Linked DNA regions of Homo sapiens: region 1 is linked to region 2. The links come from fine-mapping of genetic effects on gene expression. A gene starts in region 2. The other region holds a variant in brackets. All regions are shown on one strand. Distances are from middle to middle. Region 1 overlaps LITATS1 (lncRNA induced by TGF-beta and antagonizes TGF-beta signaling 1). Region 2 holds the start of LITATS1 (lncRNA induced by TGF-beta and antagonizes TGF-beta signaling 1).

Evidence for each region. PIP is the estimated chance that this variant, and not a neighbour inherited with it, causes the effect.
Region 1: its variant is fine-mapped to the expression of LITATS1 in unexposed skin (GTEx, PIP 0.92).

What each region holds. Positions count from the first base shown.
Region 1 is chr1:37,450,027-37,458,426 of GRCh38, forward strand. It overlaps LITATS1 (lncRNA induced by TGF-beta and antagonizes TGF-beta signaling 1), which reads right to left. Exons shown (of 3, transcript NR_038842.1): 2 at 6,341-6,433; 3 at 4,853-5,886. Among named protein-coding and RNA genes, the nearest start is that of LITATS1, 20 kb to the right of the region's middle. RefSeq lists enhancers at 1,332-2,531, 1,934-2,724, 4,722-5,921, 4,770-5,291, 5,292-5,813. The variant G/A (reference allele first, on the strand shown) is at 3,839.
Region 2 is chr1:37,470,438-37,478,837 of GRCh38, forward strand. LITATS1 (lncRNA induced by TGF-beta and antagonizes TGF-beta signaling 1) reads right to left here and starts at 4,006. Exons shown (of 3, transcript NR_038842.1): 1 at 3,707-4,006. It overlaps ZC3H12A (zinc finger CCCH-type containing 12A), which reads left to right and starts at 4,143. Exons shown (of 6, transcript NM_025079.3): 1 at 4,143-4,192; 2 at 5,022-5,502. The coding sequence starts at 5,060. RefSeq lists silencers at 3,318-3,417, 3,878-4,337 and enhancers at 4,988-5,087, 6,798-7,097.

The DNA of each region.
Region 1 (8,400 bases), 20 kb before region 2:
ATGCAGTAGGTCCATAACAAATGTTAACTTTGACTAATGACATCCGGCTGCCTCCCTTCCATTGCATACTCCTTACACATTGCCCCTGCTGAGTGCACCTCCCTCCTTCCCTTGCCCACACATCCCCCTCCCCCATACCCGCCACCCACTTCCTTTTTTTAGGAGGCAGGGTTTAGCTCTGTCACCCAGGCCGGAGTGCAGTGGCACAATCAAAGCTGACTGCAACCTCGACCTCCTGGCCTCAAGGGATTCTCCCACCTCAGCACCCCTCCCCAAGTAGCTGGGATCACAGGCATATGCCACCATGCCCAGCTAGTTTTTTTTGTTTTTTTGTAGAGACAAGGTCTCGTTATGTTGCCCAGGCTGGTCTAGAACTCCCAGGCTCAAGCAATCCTCCCACCTCAGCCTCCCAAAGTGCTGGGATTACAGGTGTGAGCCACCTCTCCGGCCTTTTTGGGTTTTTGTTTTGTTTTGTGTTTTGTTTGGTTTTGACGGAGTCTCCCTCTATCACTCAGGCTGGAGTGTCATGGCTCACTACAGCCTCAAACTCCTGGGCTCAAGCAATTCTCCCACTTCAGCCTCCTGAGTAGCTGAGACTATAGGCACGTGCCAACACGCCCAGGTAATTTTTAAATATTTTTGTGGAGACAGGTTCTTTCTCTGTCGCCTAGGCTGGAGTGCAGTGGCACGATTCCGGCTCACTTCAACCTCTGCCTCCCAGACTCAGGTGATCCTCCCACCTTAGCCTCCAAAGTAGTAGCTGGGACCACAGGCTCGCGCCACCACGCCTGGCTAATTTTTAAAATTTTTTTTAGTAGAGAAAGGATTTCACCTTGTTGCCCAAGCTGCAAAGTTCCTTTTAATGATGTCCCTGAGCTGAAGACAGCTACAAGAGACTGCGGACGGTCTGATGAAAGGCTTGGGAAGCCTCATTCCTTCGCAATTCAATTCTTGTGGGCCAAACCAATTAAAATGTTCGTATAATCCTTCCAAGGAAAGCCAGCCTCCCTGGGTTCAAATCCCAGCTCTACCACTCACCACCTGTGTGTTCTTGGGCCAGTTTCTTCTGGGCCTCAGTGTCTCTATCAATAAAATGAGACTCACAGCTGTCATGAAGGTCACAAAAAACAAGCTCTGTGGAGTGCTGGGCAGGTAACCGGCCAGTGAGTGGCGGCTTTTACTTTCAGCATCAGTTGGAGACACAGCAGCAGGAGAGGGTGTGGGGGTCTGAAGCTGCGGAGGGGGAGGGCAGGGCAGGGGTTCCATCACAGAATGACCTCGTGGGGGTTCTCAGCTATTGCCCTAGGGTAACTTTTTTTTTTTTTTTTTTTGAGATGGAATCTCGCTCTGTTGCCCAGGCTGGAGTGCAGTGGCACGATCTTGGCTCACCACAACCTCTGCCTCCCGGATTCAAGCGATTCTCCTGCCTCAGCCTCCTGAGTAGCTGGGACTACAGGTGCACACCACGATGCCAGCTTTTTTTCTTGTCACCCAGGCTGGAGTGCAGTGGCACCATCTTGGCTCACTGCAACCTCTGCCTCCTGGGTTTAAGCGATTCTCCTGCCTCAGCCTCCCGAGTAGCTGGGATTACAGGCACCCGCCACCACATCAGGCTAATTTTTTGGTAGAGATGGGGTTTCATCATGTTGGCCAGGCTGGTCTCAAACTCCTGACCTCAGGTGATCCACCCGCCTCGGCCTCCCAAAGTGCAGGGATTACAGGCGTGAGCCACCAGCCTAATTTTTGTATTTTTAGTAGAGATGGGGTTTCACTATGTTGGCCAGGCTGGTCTCGAACTGCTGACCTCTGGATCCACCTGCCTCAGCCTCCCAAAGTGCTGGGATTACAGGCGTGAGCCTCCGCGCCCGGCCGCCCTAGGGTAACTTTTAATGACACTCCCTTTCATTCCCAAACGTATCCTAATCTGGATGACTAATTATATGGTCATCCTACTCCAAATCCCCCACGCCCAAGATGGGGCCTGGGAGCTGGCCCATGGTGTTGGGAAAGGGTTCTACTCCTGACCTGTTTTCCTTTCCAGACCCTTGGGATTGCCTAAGCCCTGGGTCCCAGCCCCAGCCCTAGCCCACTCTCAGGCCAAGGAAACTCATTCCCTCAATTAGCATTATAAAGCGGCAGGGAGGGGAAAGGCCTCGAAGGCGGGTGCCCGGAAGGTGCTGGGAATGGGAGTCTGTTGGGATTCCGGGCCTTACCTCTGATCCTGACGGCAATTCCTCATATCCTTAACTTCCTCTTTCCTGCAGGGAAATTATTAACAGTACTATCTCTGATTTGCAAAGATCAAATCACACAAGGACTGGCGGTGAAAGTGTTGTGTGGTCCGATGAGTGGCATTAGGAGGGCAGTGACTTCTGCTTCGGCCACCAAGGCAGAATTCCCAGATCCTGTTTCTCCGGTGATTGTGGGGGAGACAGAGATGGAGCATAAAGGGTCACAAAGGGTCCACAGATGGCTGGGGGTGAGGTGTCTACCCAGTGCCTCGGCCTATAGAAGTCTTCTCACTCACAGCCCCTAGCCCACTTCCACCAGGCCCGGAAGGACACCTCCAATGCCTGTCCAGGGCCCCCTGGCCCTGCTCAGAGATGCCTCCTCCAGGCAGAGGCAGCTGCTACCCTCAAGCTCCAGGTGACTGCTGCCAGGCTCAGAAGCTACTCAGGGTAGGTGGTGAGCCCGCTGCCTCCAGGGCTGCTTCTCAGAAAAGCTCAGAGAAGACATCTTAGCGGCTAAGTGGCACTCATTTTATTTGAGGCAGAATTCTTGTCCGGTGGTCCCCAAACTGCACACCTAGGAACCCCAAGAGCTTAATGACAGATGAGAGTTCTGAGGGAGTGGGACCAAGTGGGCAGGACTCCAGGGGCATTGAAGGGCTTCCTCCTCTCCTCTCCCCTCCCCTCCCCTCATCTCTCCCCTCCCCTCCCCTCTCCTCTTCCCTCCCCTGTCCTCTCTCTCCCCTCTCCCTCTCCTCTCTGCTGTCTGTCCTTTCCCATTCTCTTCTCTTTCTCCCTCTCTTTCACTCTTTCTTCAACCAGAGCAGCTCCATTTAGTATTCTGTCCAAAATTTTTCTCGCACAAAAATGTCCACAGTTAAAATAATTTTTCAAAAACAGAGTTCTGTTCCTCCTCTCTCCTTTCCTTCCTCAACAATTCAGTCCTAAAACTATTATGTGCAGCAGAGCAAGGGAATGGGGGAACCATGGATGAACACAGCAGGATTCCTAGCAGAGTGAGGAGGGGGACCACTGGGGAAGGCAGGCTGGCCCAGGGGTGTCAGAGTACAAATCAGTGAGGGGCTGTCACCCCTATGGGGTCAGCCTGATATGGGTGTCAGAGCCCAGGCAGACAAAGCAAGGCAGCCATGCAGGGGATGGTTCCAGTGTGGGAAGCCAGAGCCAGCCAGAAGTGGGGTGTCAGAGCCTACAGCTGAGTTAGGAGGGTGTCTCAATGGGGGAAAGGGGTAGCCCTGTGCAGAAAGTCAGAGTGCCCAGGTCACCCATCCATCAAGACTTGGGGCTCTGCCTCCCCTACGTCTGCCCCAATCCTTTCTAAAGCCAGGCTTAGCTGGACCAAGGAAGACCCTGGGCCTCTTCTCAGTTGAAGCCACTGAGCACCAGGACATGCCAGGCAAGATTAGATGTGCCAGGTGCTGGAGTTAGAGCCAGGCTGGAGCAAGACAGTCAGGTCTCAGCCGGTGTGGAGCCCACAGTCCAGCAGGGAGGATGGACACAGAGGCTGCCATCACAGAACATGAGCTCAGCAGCAGGACGGGAGCTCGTGGAGGGCAAGCAACGTGACCTTGCACAGGGACCAGGCAGTGTCC[G/A]CAGAGGAGGCAAGCCAATGAGTCAGGAAGATGAGTTTACCAGGCGGGGGAGGATGGGGGTGGCAATGCCTCTGGGCCTCAGTCTCTCCCCCTGCCCGTCCTCACCATCCCATCCACAAAAGTCCCAGCCACCAGGAGCCTCTCAAGAGGCCTTTCCATCCTGAGACCCCCATAGACTACAACCTAGTCCCAGGCCCCTCCAGATGGACAGTGTTGAGGGCCATCTCACCCGCCTGGCCTGGACCCCACCTCACTGGAGGCTGCCCTCAGTGGGAAGGTTCCTTTGCTCCCCTTTCTGAGGTCTGACATCCCCCATCATTGAGAAGTCCCGCCTTGTGTTTAACTCACATCTCTCTTGCTTTCTCTAATCTTCAGAGAAATGGCTAACTGAAGGCCTTTCACCAATTACAGGGAAACGCTGATAAAACCGGTCCCAGGAGGGCAGTGGGTTGGAGCTGCCCCAAAACTTTACCTTCAGGCTGAAGCTTCCTACCTTCTTTTTTTTTTTTTTTTTTTTTTTGAGATGGAGTCTTGCTCAGTAGCCCAGGCTGAAGTGCGGTGGCGCGATCTCGGCTCACTGCAAGCTCCGCCTCCCAGATTCACGCCATTCTCCTGCCTCAGCCTCCCTAGTAGCTGGGACTACAGGAGCCCGCCACCATACCTGGCTAACTTTTTGTATTTTTAGTAGAGACGGGGTTTCACCATGTTAGCCAGGATGGTCTCGATCTCCTGACCTCGTGATCCACCTGCCTTGGCCTCCCAAAGTGCTGGGATTACAGACGTGAGCCACCGTGCCCAGCTCCTACCTTCATTTTTTCATCTGCAAACACTGACCTGTGGGGTCCCTCTGATCTTCCCACACCCAGGTGAGAGCCCACACACATGCACCCCATCCTCACCACAGCCCTACTCCCTGAAGGGCCCTTGTCCATAGAAGGCCTGCATAGGGCTCATTCCAGGGGCCCCTCCATTTGGGGCTTATGATGGACTGGCCTAGCAGAGAAAAATAACTGCTTGGACTCCATATGACTTTATTTTCTGGGGTGGAGGAGAAAGCGAGCCACCTCAGCTGCCTCATCATGCAAAAGGTAGAGATTAGACCCCAGGAAGGACTTCCTTTGGCTTAGGGCATCCTTCTCCCTGCAGTCACCAGCAGGGGGCGCCACAGGCCAGCCTGTGGGACCCACTATCTGAGAACGGGGTTGTCACCCAGGAGTGAGTGAAGGTCTGGCCAGCACTGAGGGCTCTGGGGTGCAGAGAAGTTAGGAGATCCATCAAAGCAGCCAGACCACCTGGTGGGAGGCGGCACACACTCTGCCAGTCCGGACACGGGTTAGGGAGTGGCATCACATTCCGCCGAGTCATTGCCTGCGAAGACTAACGTCACCTCTGATGTCAGGGCTCCAAGGGGCTTCGTTCCAGCTCCAGGCTCCAGGAAAGGGCGTCGCAGGGCCCAGAGGTTACACAACTTCCCCCAAGATCGCTGTGGAAATGACTGGCAGAGCAGGGATTCAAACCCAGGTCCCTGTGGGTGCCTCTGCCCAGCCGCCTGCAGGGTCTGCAGGTGGCCATGTCCCACGTGTCACCTTTACAGACCCACGGCTGAGAGCCGGCCCAGCCTTGGCCTGGCTTCCTTCTTTCTCATCTCTAAAAATGCCTTTCATTCTAAGATCTCCTTGGCAGCTTCATAATAAAAAGAAGGCTTCTGAAACCGCAAATGTTTTTAAATGAATTCAAGCCCCAAGTTTCTGCAGGGGGGTGAGGGATGCAGGATGAAGGTAAGTTTTTGAGTATGAAAGTTACATGCATGATGCGAGAGCCCTCCACTGACCTCCAAAACTCGCGCTGCCGGGGATACGAGGGCCCCTGGCGAGTCTCCCGAAGTGTCTCCTTTTGAAAGCTCACCGGTCCTTGTACTCTGAGTGCTTTCAGTTGGGTCCATTATGAGAAATCTCCTTTTGAGCATGGATGTATTCAAATCCAGATGTTGTCCCCGCAGAACAAAAAGCTCCCTCCAAATTCTCTTTATGAAGAAGTAGGTTCTCACCCTTTGAAGGAATAAACATCTCTTGATAAGTGGAATTTTTTTCCCCCAGCCAAGAACCTGCTGCTCCGAATTTGCTAAAAACTGGTTTAATAGCCGGTCTCCATTCTATTTCAGAGGCCAAGATGGCGGCGACAAGGTGGAATGTCAGCAGAAGATGTATTCAATAGATTGAGTGTGGCTTCACTAAGAAGGCTGGATTTTTAAAATATTTGTTATTTATTTAGATACTTTGTTTTTAAATTCAAGACATACATTCTAATGACAAAAGTGAAAAACAGATTGAAAGATGAAAAACAGAGTGTCAGAAAAACCTGCTCAATCATATACTTCATTTTGATTCAAATAACAACTTTTCAGGAAGGAAGGATACAGTAAACCTACGCATTGATTGTAAATTAGTCCCAATTTCTATAATATTCATTTTCTTAAAGTATGCTGGGCGTGGTGACTCATACCTGTAATCCCAGCACTTCGGGAGGCCAAGGCAGGTGGATTGCTTGAGCCCAAGAGCTTGAGATCAGCCTGGGCAACATGGCGAAACTTCGTCTCTACAAAAAATACAAAAATTAGCCAGGTGTGTAGTGGCAGGAGCCTGTAGTCCCAGCTACTCAGGAGGCTGAGGTGGGAGAATGGCTTAAACCGGGAGGTAGAGGCTGCTGTGAGCCAAGATCCTGCACTACACTTTAGCCTGCGTGACAGAGTGAGACCCTGTCTCAAAAATAAAATAAAATAAACCTTAAAATAGGGGAAATATGGATTACATATTTGTTAACTATATGTGTATATATAGCCAACAGAAATTTTTATCAGTAGGGTCTAGTTTTTTTGCTGTTGATAAAACCATCTGAGAGCTGGAAACAGGAATCCTTTCCTCACTCTGCTTGCATACCATTGGTGATGGGGAGCTCACCACCTCTGAAGGCACTCTGATTCACTGTGGGAAAGTTCTGATAGCCACAGAGCTGGTTCTCAGGCCCCTGTTATCTCCATGGGTGCCAGTTCTGCCCTTGGAGCCAGGCAGGGTTATACCACTGTTCCTGCCTCTGCCCTTTTGAGTCTTCTCTTCTGCAAGATCAGTATCCCCAGTTCCTCACTAACCTTTACCCTCCACAAACTGGACTCTGGTCTCTCCCTGTCTCCTCAAATGTACGACAACCAGAGTTGAGCACAACCCTCCAGCTATCACCTCCCTCATCGTCAACCTGTACCTCTACAGACTCAGCCTGAGACCACAATCATTTGGGGCAACCATCTCAATGTGCAATGAACCTTCAGCCAAAATCTCTTTCATGCAAAAAATTTTAATTTTACATCCATCCGTAGAGGGGTTAGTCCATCATCTCATCCGCTTTAGGGGATTTTGGGCTCTTGTTTGGTCATTTAAAATACCAGCCACTGCATCTAGTTTTGGGTCACCTGCAAATCGAATAAGCATGTCTTCTGCACCTTTAACCCAGCTGTTGATAGGAATGAGTGGTGATCTTGCCCCAGCCGGCCAGTGTCTCTGGGACCCTGGTTTCTCCATCCAATAATGAACAAGGGTGAGATGATGACCTGCATCAAGACATCCCATGGACTACATGTCAGACACTATCCTAAGCCCTTTACAAACACCAAGACATTGAATTCTTCACACCAATTCGATGAGGGAGGTATTGTTAGCATCTTCTCCATTCTGCAGATGAGGAAAACAGGTTTTGCAGGATTTGACCTCAATTCTGACTGCACCCAATCCGATGCTTTAGCCAGCATGGGTTATTCTCGGGAAGATCTCTGATGTGACCTAGAATAGAGCCGGCAGACCCACCAACAGAGCTGTCCTCACAAGCAGGAGTGCTACATGGCACTCCTTGGGCCCCTCGTAGATCCCCAAGTCCCATGCACGGCTCAGAAGCAGTGGAGGGCTGAAGATATGAGGCCACCTTCAGAAAGGGACATTAGATGCCTCAGCCATGATCGGGATGAACAGACAACCAAGGGACAACAAATCTTTCCCCTCACTCCCAGGTCTTGACTCTGCTTCAGAGCAAGGTGCACTTAAAACTTCAAGAGTGACTCAAAGGAGCGTGTTTGCCAGCTCAGTGAAAGTGGGGGCTTGGCGTCAAAACTTCAGGTAGGTTGTGGCATGTAAAGGAAGTGATGTTCCTAATTAAAAGGAAGCATGGGGTCGGGCACAGTGGCTCATGCTTGTAATCCCAGCACTTTGGGAGGCCGAGGCGGGCGGATCACCTGAGGTCAGGAGTTTGAGACCAGCCTGGCCAACACGGTGAAACCCCGTCTCTACTAAAAATACAAAAATCAGCTGGGTATGGTGGCAGGTGCCTGTAATCCCAGCTACTTGGGAGGCTGTGGCAGGAGAATCACATAAACCTGGGAAGTGGAGATTGCAGTGAGCCGAGACTGCGCCACTACGCTCCAGCCTGGGTGACAGAGAAAGACTCTGTCTCAAAAAAAAAAAAAAAAAAAAAACAGAAGCATGTGGTTGGGGGGAGTGATGTTCCCTGCACACCTGAGT
Region 2 (8,400 bases):
CTGAAGCAGGAGGATCGTTTAAGCCCAGGAGTTCAAGGTTACAGTGAGCTATGATCACGGCACTGCACTCAAGCCTGGGCGACAGAGCAAGACCCTGGCTCTGAAAACAAAAAAATTATTTATATCAGTATAAATATTTATTTTATACTTTAGGTTATAATTCAATATTATCCTATTATTTATTCCCTTGCTCAGTTGCTCCAGCTTTGGCCATAGGGAGCTCTTCTGGCTCCTGGATCCCTTTGACGCACTCCCATCCTTTTGTGTTTTGAGCGCTTCCTAAATCCCTGGCACCACAGCACACTGCCGGCTCATCCTTTCCCTGTCCCAGCCCTAAAATCAGCCATCTCTCCAAGGAAATAATGTATTTTTAATACAAGTTCTCCAATTATCTTGTCAATAGTCCAAATATATTGCACCGCATTTGAATGCATGATTTAAAAAAAAAAGAGTTAATTTGTTCAGTTACCGTTTAAAACATACATTGATTTTTGTAGCCCTGCTGTGACATGTCTTTTTGAAATATACCAGGAGTCTGGCCGGGAGCAGTGGCTCATGCCTGTAATCCCAGCACTTTGGGAGGCCAAGGCGGGCGGATCACGAGGTCAAGAGATCGAGACCATCCTGGCTAACACGGTGAAACCCCGTTTCTACTAAAAACACAAAAAAATTATCCAGGTGTGTTGGCAGGCACCTGTAGTCCCAGCTACTGGTAGTCCCAGCTACTCGGGAGGCTGAGGCAGGAGAATGGCATGAACCTGGGAGGCGGAGCTTGCAGTGAGCTGAGATCGCGCCACTGCACTCCAGCCTGGGCGACAGAGCCAGACTCCATCTCGAAAATAAAAAATAAAAAGAAATATACCAGGAGTCTCAAACATGGGAGGGATCTGGTCCTTTCTTCACTTCTAGGAGGCCTTGTTGAATTTAAACATCACCTCAGCAGCCACTCCCTTAAGGCTTGAGGGCAGCCTGCCCAGCCTTTCTACAGAGGTAGCCCAGTTCCCGGGTCCTCCCCAGGCTGAGCTGCCCAGTGAAGCAACTGAAAGCCAAGGTCATTCCTGGGACCTTTCCCTCTCCAACCTCATCTCCCAACCCCCCACCACCCTCAGGCAGTGACCAGTCCACAAGCTTTGCAGACCCCACCTACGCTGGCTGGGCACAGGCAGATAGATGGTGGGAGGCCAGGCAGGCTCCAAGAAGGAAATTAGCCAGCCCAGCTGCCAAGACAGGCATACGAGAGGCAGAGGGGTTTGTGTGGGCTCGGCTTCAGAGAACTCCTGGGGATTAGGGCCAAAGTTTGCAAAATCCAGCTGTAAACGGAGCAGGGGTTCCCCAAAGAAGCCGTGGGTTCTGTAGAGGAGAGTCGGCTTCTTGGGAAGTAGCATGAGCCGGAAGACAGCGAGACTGTGGCTCTCTCTGGGAGGGCAGGGAGCAGCATGACTCATCGCCTAGTCCTGCTGGCTCCTACTGGCACAGGGCTGGGCAGCAGAGGGTCTGGGAGCAGGAGCAGAGTCTGGTCTTGTTGCAGCTCCAGAGGAGGTCTCAGGCTGGCAAAGACAATCTAACACGTTGGGACATAGGCAGGGTGTTGTGGGGACACTTAGGAGGGTACAACCAGCATCAAAGGAGTCTTGGCTGGCCTCACAGAGGAGGTGACATCATCCAAAAGATGAATGGAACTGGCTAGGAAGCAGCTGGGTGGGAGAGAGGGAAGGGCACTCCAAGCCAAGGAAGAAGCAGAGCAGAGGCCCGAAAGTGTCTGCAAGGCGCTAGCTGGTGCCTGCCACCCAGTGAGCACTCTATAAATGGGAGGCATTATCTCTATGATTGATTAGTATTGTCATTATCATTATTAACCTGGACACATCACTTAATGTTTTTACTATCTTAAAGGTAGTTGCTATAGCGAATAAATGCTTAACATAACTGAGCTCTTCTCATCTGTAAAAGGGACTGTTGTGAGGTTAGGGGTGCCGCCGGCACCGCACTCAGCTGGAGTGACAGCAAGCATGTGAGGTGCCCAGCATGGGATGTGAGCTGGCATGCAGCAGGGGGCCTTGTGTTTCCTCTCTCCTTGGGTTGCCAAGCCCCTGGAGCTGCTGTGCCTGGGGAGCAGAGAAGGGGACACTTTGGGGTCTTCAAAGATGACCAGGCAACAAAGCAGGAACACCGCTAGGTAAGAGCAAGCAAGCCCAGAGGAACAGCCTCAGGGTCCAGATAGAGACGTACACGCCTGCCTCCCTGGGGTCTTTGGTGGCCTCCCGAACAAGCAGGTGTGGATGGGGAGATGGACTGCCTTGGAGAGAGCTACATGAGTTCCAGCTCCACCAGCCCCCAGAGCCTGAGCAGGTGACTTCACCTTTCTGAATCTCTGAACATCCATTTCCTCCACTGTACAATTTCATTAAGATACATACAAGAATATCCAAAGCACAGTCTTTGTAATAGAAAAAAAATCCTAGAAACAACATCCAACAGCAGGTGACTGAATAAGTAACCAGTGGTATATTCATAAAATGGGACACTATTCAGTAGTAAAATAAATTACAGGTATGCAGGCAATCAAAATGGATTTTTAAAAATATAATGCTGTATGAAAAAGGAAGTCACATAATTATGGAATGACTCCGTTTACACAAAGTAAAAAATAGCAAAACTATACAATATCCCACTTAGGGATGCATACAGAGGTGGTAAAACTACAAGAAAAAGCAAGAGAATGACTAGCACAATTAAAGTTCAGGAAACTAGTTCTTCAGGATGTGGGCAGGAGGCTGTGATGGGGGCACCCAGAGGGCCTCAAGGTACTGGCACTGGTCTATTTTTTAAGTTAGGTGATGGATACATGGCTTTTTTATTATTACTATTATTCTTTAAGCTGTACATGTACAGTTGTGTCTATGGTGTCTTTTACAATAAACAAGTATTTATTATAACACTAGCACTTATAGGATACATGCCTATGATGAGGTAGAGAGAATGTAACAAAGGACTGGCACATAGTAAGCACTGGTGGCATGTGGCTCTGTCCTCCAGCGTGTGGGCTCTGTGTTTTCTCTCTCTCTCTCTCACTCACACACACGCACGCACACACACACACACACATAGGAAGCCAGGCTCCCCTCTGCCCTCAGTCACTCGTGGTTCACAAAAATGGCAAATAATAGGAGCACTAGAATAGGAGCTCTCCATCCTGGTTCGAGTCTTTCCAGCTGGGGCAGTTTAGCCTTTGCAGAATTTCTCAAGGGTAACATCAGCATAATGACCTCTGTCTGTAAGCCCGTGAGTGTAAGCCTGTAAAGTGCTGTGCTCATGCGAGGGATCAGGTCTGACCTGGGAAACTAAAAGCATCTTCATGGAGCAAGGGTGCTCCTCCAGTGGGGGCGCTCAGTGAGTTCTGCGGTATGGGTGACAGTATTCTTGTGTGGACAGTATTCATGTGGTGATTGGGGTAAATGGCCCTCTTTTGCCTGGTTTTCTGCCTCGGTCATTGTGCATCTGCTGACTGAACCTGCCTTTTGGTCCTAGTAAAGTACAGATTTCAGGAAAAGTGTACCTGGCCCCGGGGGTGGCCAACCTCTGTGTGACGGCTTTAAGCACAGTGTGTCTTGAGGGGGCCTGACTCCATCTGAAAAGTGCCTGTCTGGATGTACCTGTCTATAACCATGGACCTGCCTCCAAGGTGCGTGGACCAACCTCCGCGTACCTGATTCACTCGATGCGCACCTGGCCGTACGTAGCTTCATCAGGCAGGGTGTACCTGTCAAGTTCTTAGGTCCGAGTGTTCGCGGCTTTACCTGTCCTGGTACCGCCGTCCGCACCTCGGTCAGTGCGTCCCCGGCAGGTGCGTGTACCTGATTCAGTCCGTGCTTATCTTGCGCATACGGGCCGTTCAGTGTCCCGCTCGGAGCTCGTCGCCGCCGCAGCCTTGAGGCTCCGACCCCCGCTTGGGCCCCGTCCGGCGCGCAGCGGCCGCGGGGGCGGGGCCGCGACGCGAGGAGCGGAGCAGGAAGGGGCGAGGCAGCCCCGCCCCCGGGGCGGTCTCCCGGGACGGCCCCGCCCCTTGCCCGCTTCCGCGTCAGTGCCTCACCACCACCTGCCCGCGCGCCGCCCCATATAAAGGCGCCGCCGTCCTTACCCCCAGGACTCGGCCCCATGGAGACGCCGCCGGCCGCCGCTGGCGCATGGCGGGGTGAGGCGCGGCGGGGAGGGTGCGGGCCTCGGCGGGGAAGCGGCAGGGAGCGCTCCGGCGGGGTCCGAGCCGAGCCGAGGGGAGGGGACGGGAGGGGACGGGAGGGGTGGAGAGGGGAGGGGACGGAAGGGTCGGGGTCCTGTTCCCCGGCCCGCCGGGCCTCAGGACCCCTCCAACTTTGCCCAAGTTGGGAGAGCCGGGGAAGAGCACCAGGTTCCTGATCGGGATCGCGGGCCGAGCAAGCGCGGGTCTCGGGCCGGGACAGCCTCGGCGTCACCAGCTCCCGGCAGCCAACCAAAGTTTTCCAGCAACTTTTCTCCCCACGGGTCACCCCAGAAACTTGCCCTCCCCGGCTCCGGGAGTCCGGCCATGGGCCTTGCGCTGCCTGGGCCTGAGCTCTGAGTGCCGGACGGGTGGGCGAAAGTGGTGGCCTCAGTGGGGAAGCCTTGGGCCCCGCAACGCACTTCCAGCCCCAGGATTCCATCTGAGAGCCCCGTCCCTGCCTTCTGGGTCCCCTGGGTTGGCGTGGGGGTTCGAGGCTTTACAGCTGGGGTAGTTCCAGTCTTAGTTCAGACTAAGTTCCGATCTTCGAGCCACCAGCTAACAGCTGGATGACCTTGAGCACGTTTTTAATGTCTGTGCCTCAGTTTCTCCCTTTATAGAATGGGAATGGGAATGCCTAGCTGGGAGAGCTTTTGAGAGGACAACCTGAACTAATAACACGATGCAGTGTGTAGTGCCACCAATCCCTCATCCTGCTGGATGTGGTTTTGGGAGGGAGGTTAGGAGAGAGCGCTATTCACCGTCCCTAACCCTGTTGGTTGTTCAGTAGGAGCTGTGGCGCGGGGCCTTCCAGGAGTCTGAGCTATGAGTGGCCCCTGTGGAGAGAAGCCTGTCCTGGAAGCCAGCCCCACCATGAGTCTGTGGGAATTTGAGGACAGCCACAGCCGTCAGGGCACCCCAAGGCCGGGTCAAGAGCTGGCCGCTGAGGAGGCCTCGGCCCTGGAACTGCAGATGAAGGTGGACTTCTTCCGGAAGCTGGGCTATTCATCCACGGAGATCCACAGCGTCCTGCAGAAGCTGGGCGTCCAGGCAGACACCAACACGGTGCTGGGTGAGCTGGTGAAACACGGGACAGCCACCGAGCGGGAGCGCCAGACCTCACCGGACCCCTGCCCTCAGCTCCCTCTAGTCCCGCGGGGTGGTGGCACCCCTAAGGCTCCCAACCTGGAGCCTCCACTCCCAGAAGAGGAAAAGGAGGGCAGCGACCTGAGACCAGTGGTCATCGATGGGAGCAACGTGGCCATGAGGTAAGTGTCACTTCTGTGGCCAGGACACATGAGGTTCGCATCTCTCCTGTGGCCAGGACACATGGAAGGATGACTGTCTCTGCAGCTCTGGTGGGCTGGAAGAAGTGACTTCCTTCTTAGGGACTGGTCTAGAGGGAGGGAAAGCCTTTTATGAGGCTAGGGTCGCGCTACTGGTAAGTGACAGAGGCAGGGTTCCAGCCCAGGTCCCTCTGTCCGCAGAGCTTACCTTATGCTGTGGGTCCCTCCCTGAGGCCAGCACTGTGTCTCCACTCCTCTCCTGTAATGTGAGGCAGGGCTGTAAAGGGGACCAGCCCGTGGGCAGCTGCTCACTCACCCCTCGGAACCTGATCTCAGGTGGGTGTTGTGAGGAGGGAGTGTGCGGATCCCGGAGAGGAGCAAGCGTTCAGGAACCATAGTAGTGGTAGTAGGCAGTGGTAGTAGCAGTTGTTGTTGTTATTTCAGGGGCTGGGCTTCTGAGGCCTTCTTGTCTCAGACCTGGGCTCCCACGAAAACAGGTCCAGTGACTGTGTCCAAGAGTGACCTCAAGGCTGGGTCCAGCTTTACATGGGTTGTGGGCAGGTGGCCTGATGCTCTGGCCTCAGGCGAGCTGCAACTTGGATCCCTACTGACTCAGCTGAAGCAGCCTGGGCTGGACCAGTCTCTGGAGGTTCCCCGGGGCCAGAGCCAGGACTCAGCCCCCAGTGACTCCCACCCCCATCCCCCAGCACAGGAATGGGGTGGGGAGGTAGGGGCAGAGAGGGAAGCCAGGGCTGCTGCTGACCTTGGGAAACCCAGACTTCTCCCGTCAATCCAGGCTCCACCCTCTGGCCCCACTTTTTTCCCAGTTCCCTCCAAGGCAGGCTGATGAGTCAGTGCTGGGTGGATGGCTCACAGGGAAAAGTTCCTGTTGGCATGGACGGGGAGACCCCAGACACAGGGTTGAGAAGGGATGATTTTCTGGCTGCCCTGAGGGAGCTCCTAGGTGGGCTGCCCAAGGCTGGCATGACATCAGCCTCTGCCCTCCCTAATTTGTGGCCCCTGTGGGACAAGTTCACTGTCCAGCTGGCCCTGGCCCAGCTCAGCAGGCATGCAGCTGAGTGCTCTTCCCTCCTTCTGTCACCTTCAGGCCAGTCTTCCTCTCTCTGACTTGGGCTGAGCCTGGATGGGAGGCTGAGAAAATCCAGTTTCCATGCCAAGAGGCAGCAGGTCACAGCCCATGCTTCGAGATTAGAAGGGGTCCCTCTCAGTGTCCAGCCTCATGTAGCTGGGCTAGGAGCTAGGTTGGATCTGTGTGACTCCTTCCTCTGGAGGTATGGGCCAGGAGCGGCTGAGCCCTGGGAGCAGCCATATGCAGTATGTGTTTGTATCCAGAAGGAGGAGGGACATGGGAGGAGGGGCTGTGATGAGGGGTGCTCAGAGGAGCCTGCTCCTGAGAAGCAGAGCCACGCACCCACCTCGGGGGTTTCTGAGCTGGGGTAGTGGCAGGAGGGGAATTCCAGCCTCAAACTTCCTGTCTCAGCTGCTACTCGGTTCCTGCCCGGCCACCCCCCCTCCCCAGGGGCAGGCGGGCTAGCCCCCCCATCATATGCAAATCATGGGGAAATTCACCTCTGTTTCCTTCTAAGGGAATTTTTTTCCACTCGCCAGGCCCAGCCCAGGCATATCTTTTCACCTGGGGAGGCTGGCCCAGCCCTGCCTTCTGTCCTGGGGCAGGAGCAGCCTAGCTGGAGTCTTCTACACACACATCCTATCAGTGTCTGCTTAGCCCGGCTGGGGGACCCTGACCTTACAGGCAAAGAGAACTGGAATGGGGGCAGGGATGTCTGGTTTTCCTGTGCCAGCAGCGCTTCCTCCAGTGCAGTGAAAGAGACTAAAGCTAGCTGTAGGGGGGCACTCCAGGCCTCATGTGCTCTACCAGGAGGAGGGCTCTGATAGCGCCCACTGATCAGTTTTTCCATCTGCTGAGGGAATATTCAGGTGCTAGGGCTGCTGAGAACCGACTTGTCCCAGCCAAGATTTTCAGTGCCCACAGGCAGTGCACTGCCCTGAGAGCCCTGGCATCCCATTAGTTCCCAGTGCTCCAAGATACTAGCCTAGGATCATGTGCCCGGAGGGAGGCAGGTGGGCGGATACATGCGCACACTGCATACCTGAGACAAGGAGCCAGGCCTGGGATGACCCAGCTGCCATGGTTTTGAGAGGCAGGCCAGAAGGCCCAAGGAAGGGGGGTGATGTGATGGGGGAAGCACTGGGCATTGTGAAGACACAGACCAGGGACCTGACCTATTGTGGCAGGTCAGGGAAGGCTTCTCAGAGGCAGTGACATCTCACAAGGGTTCTGAAGGAAGAGCAGGAGTTTGCCAGCAGCATTGTTTCTCCCGTTCGCCACCTGTCTCTCATAACACACTTTGTTCAAACTCAATTTTGGGAGCTTTGTTCTCCCAAATAAATTCTGGATCTTCTGTTAGAGACAGGAAGGCAACCGAGTGGCCCAGACCTGGGTTCGAGTTCTGACTGTCTCTTACCACTAGCCAGGTGACCTTCCTTTCCTTCACGGTAGCAAGCCCTATAAGAATGAAGCCATATATCTGGCCACCAGCGGGAGCTCAGTGCCTGCGAATCCCTGCTCATTCCCTGCGATCAGGGTCTGTGCCTGCCTTCGTACCTGCCTGAGCATTGACGTACAGGGTAGTGATAAGCATAGGCCCTGGGCTTGCGTCTCTCTTCCACCGTTAACTGCTGTGTGACCCTGGTGACTAAGCTGCCTTCTCTGGACCACAGTTTTCATCTGAAAAACAGGGAAGGAGTTGATGATGGTATAGTGCCCTCCTCACAAGCTTGCTGATGATTCAGTGTTAGACACTTATAACAGGGCCTGGTTCACAGCTCTCAGCAAAT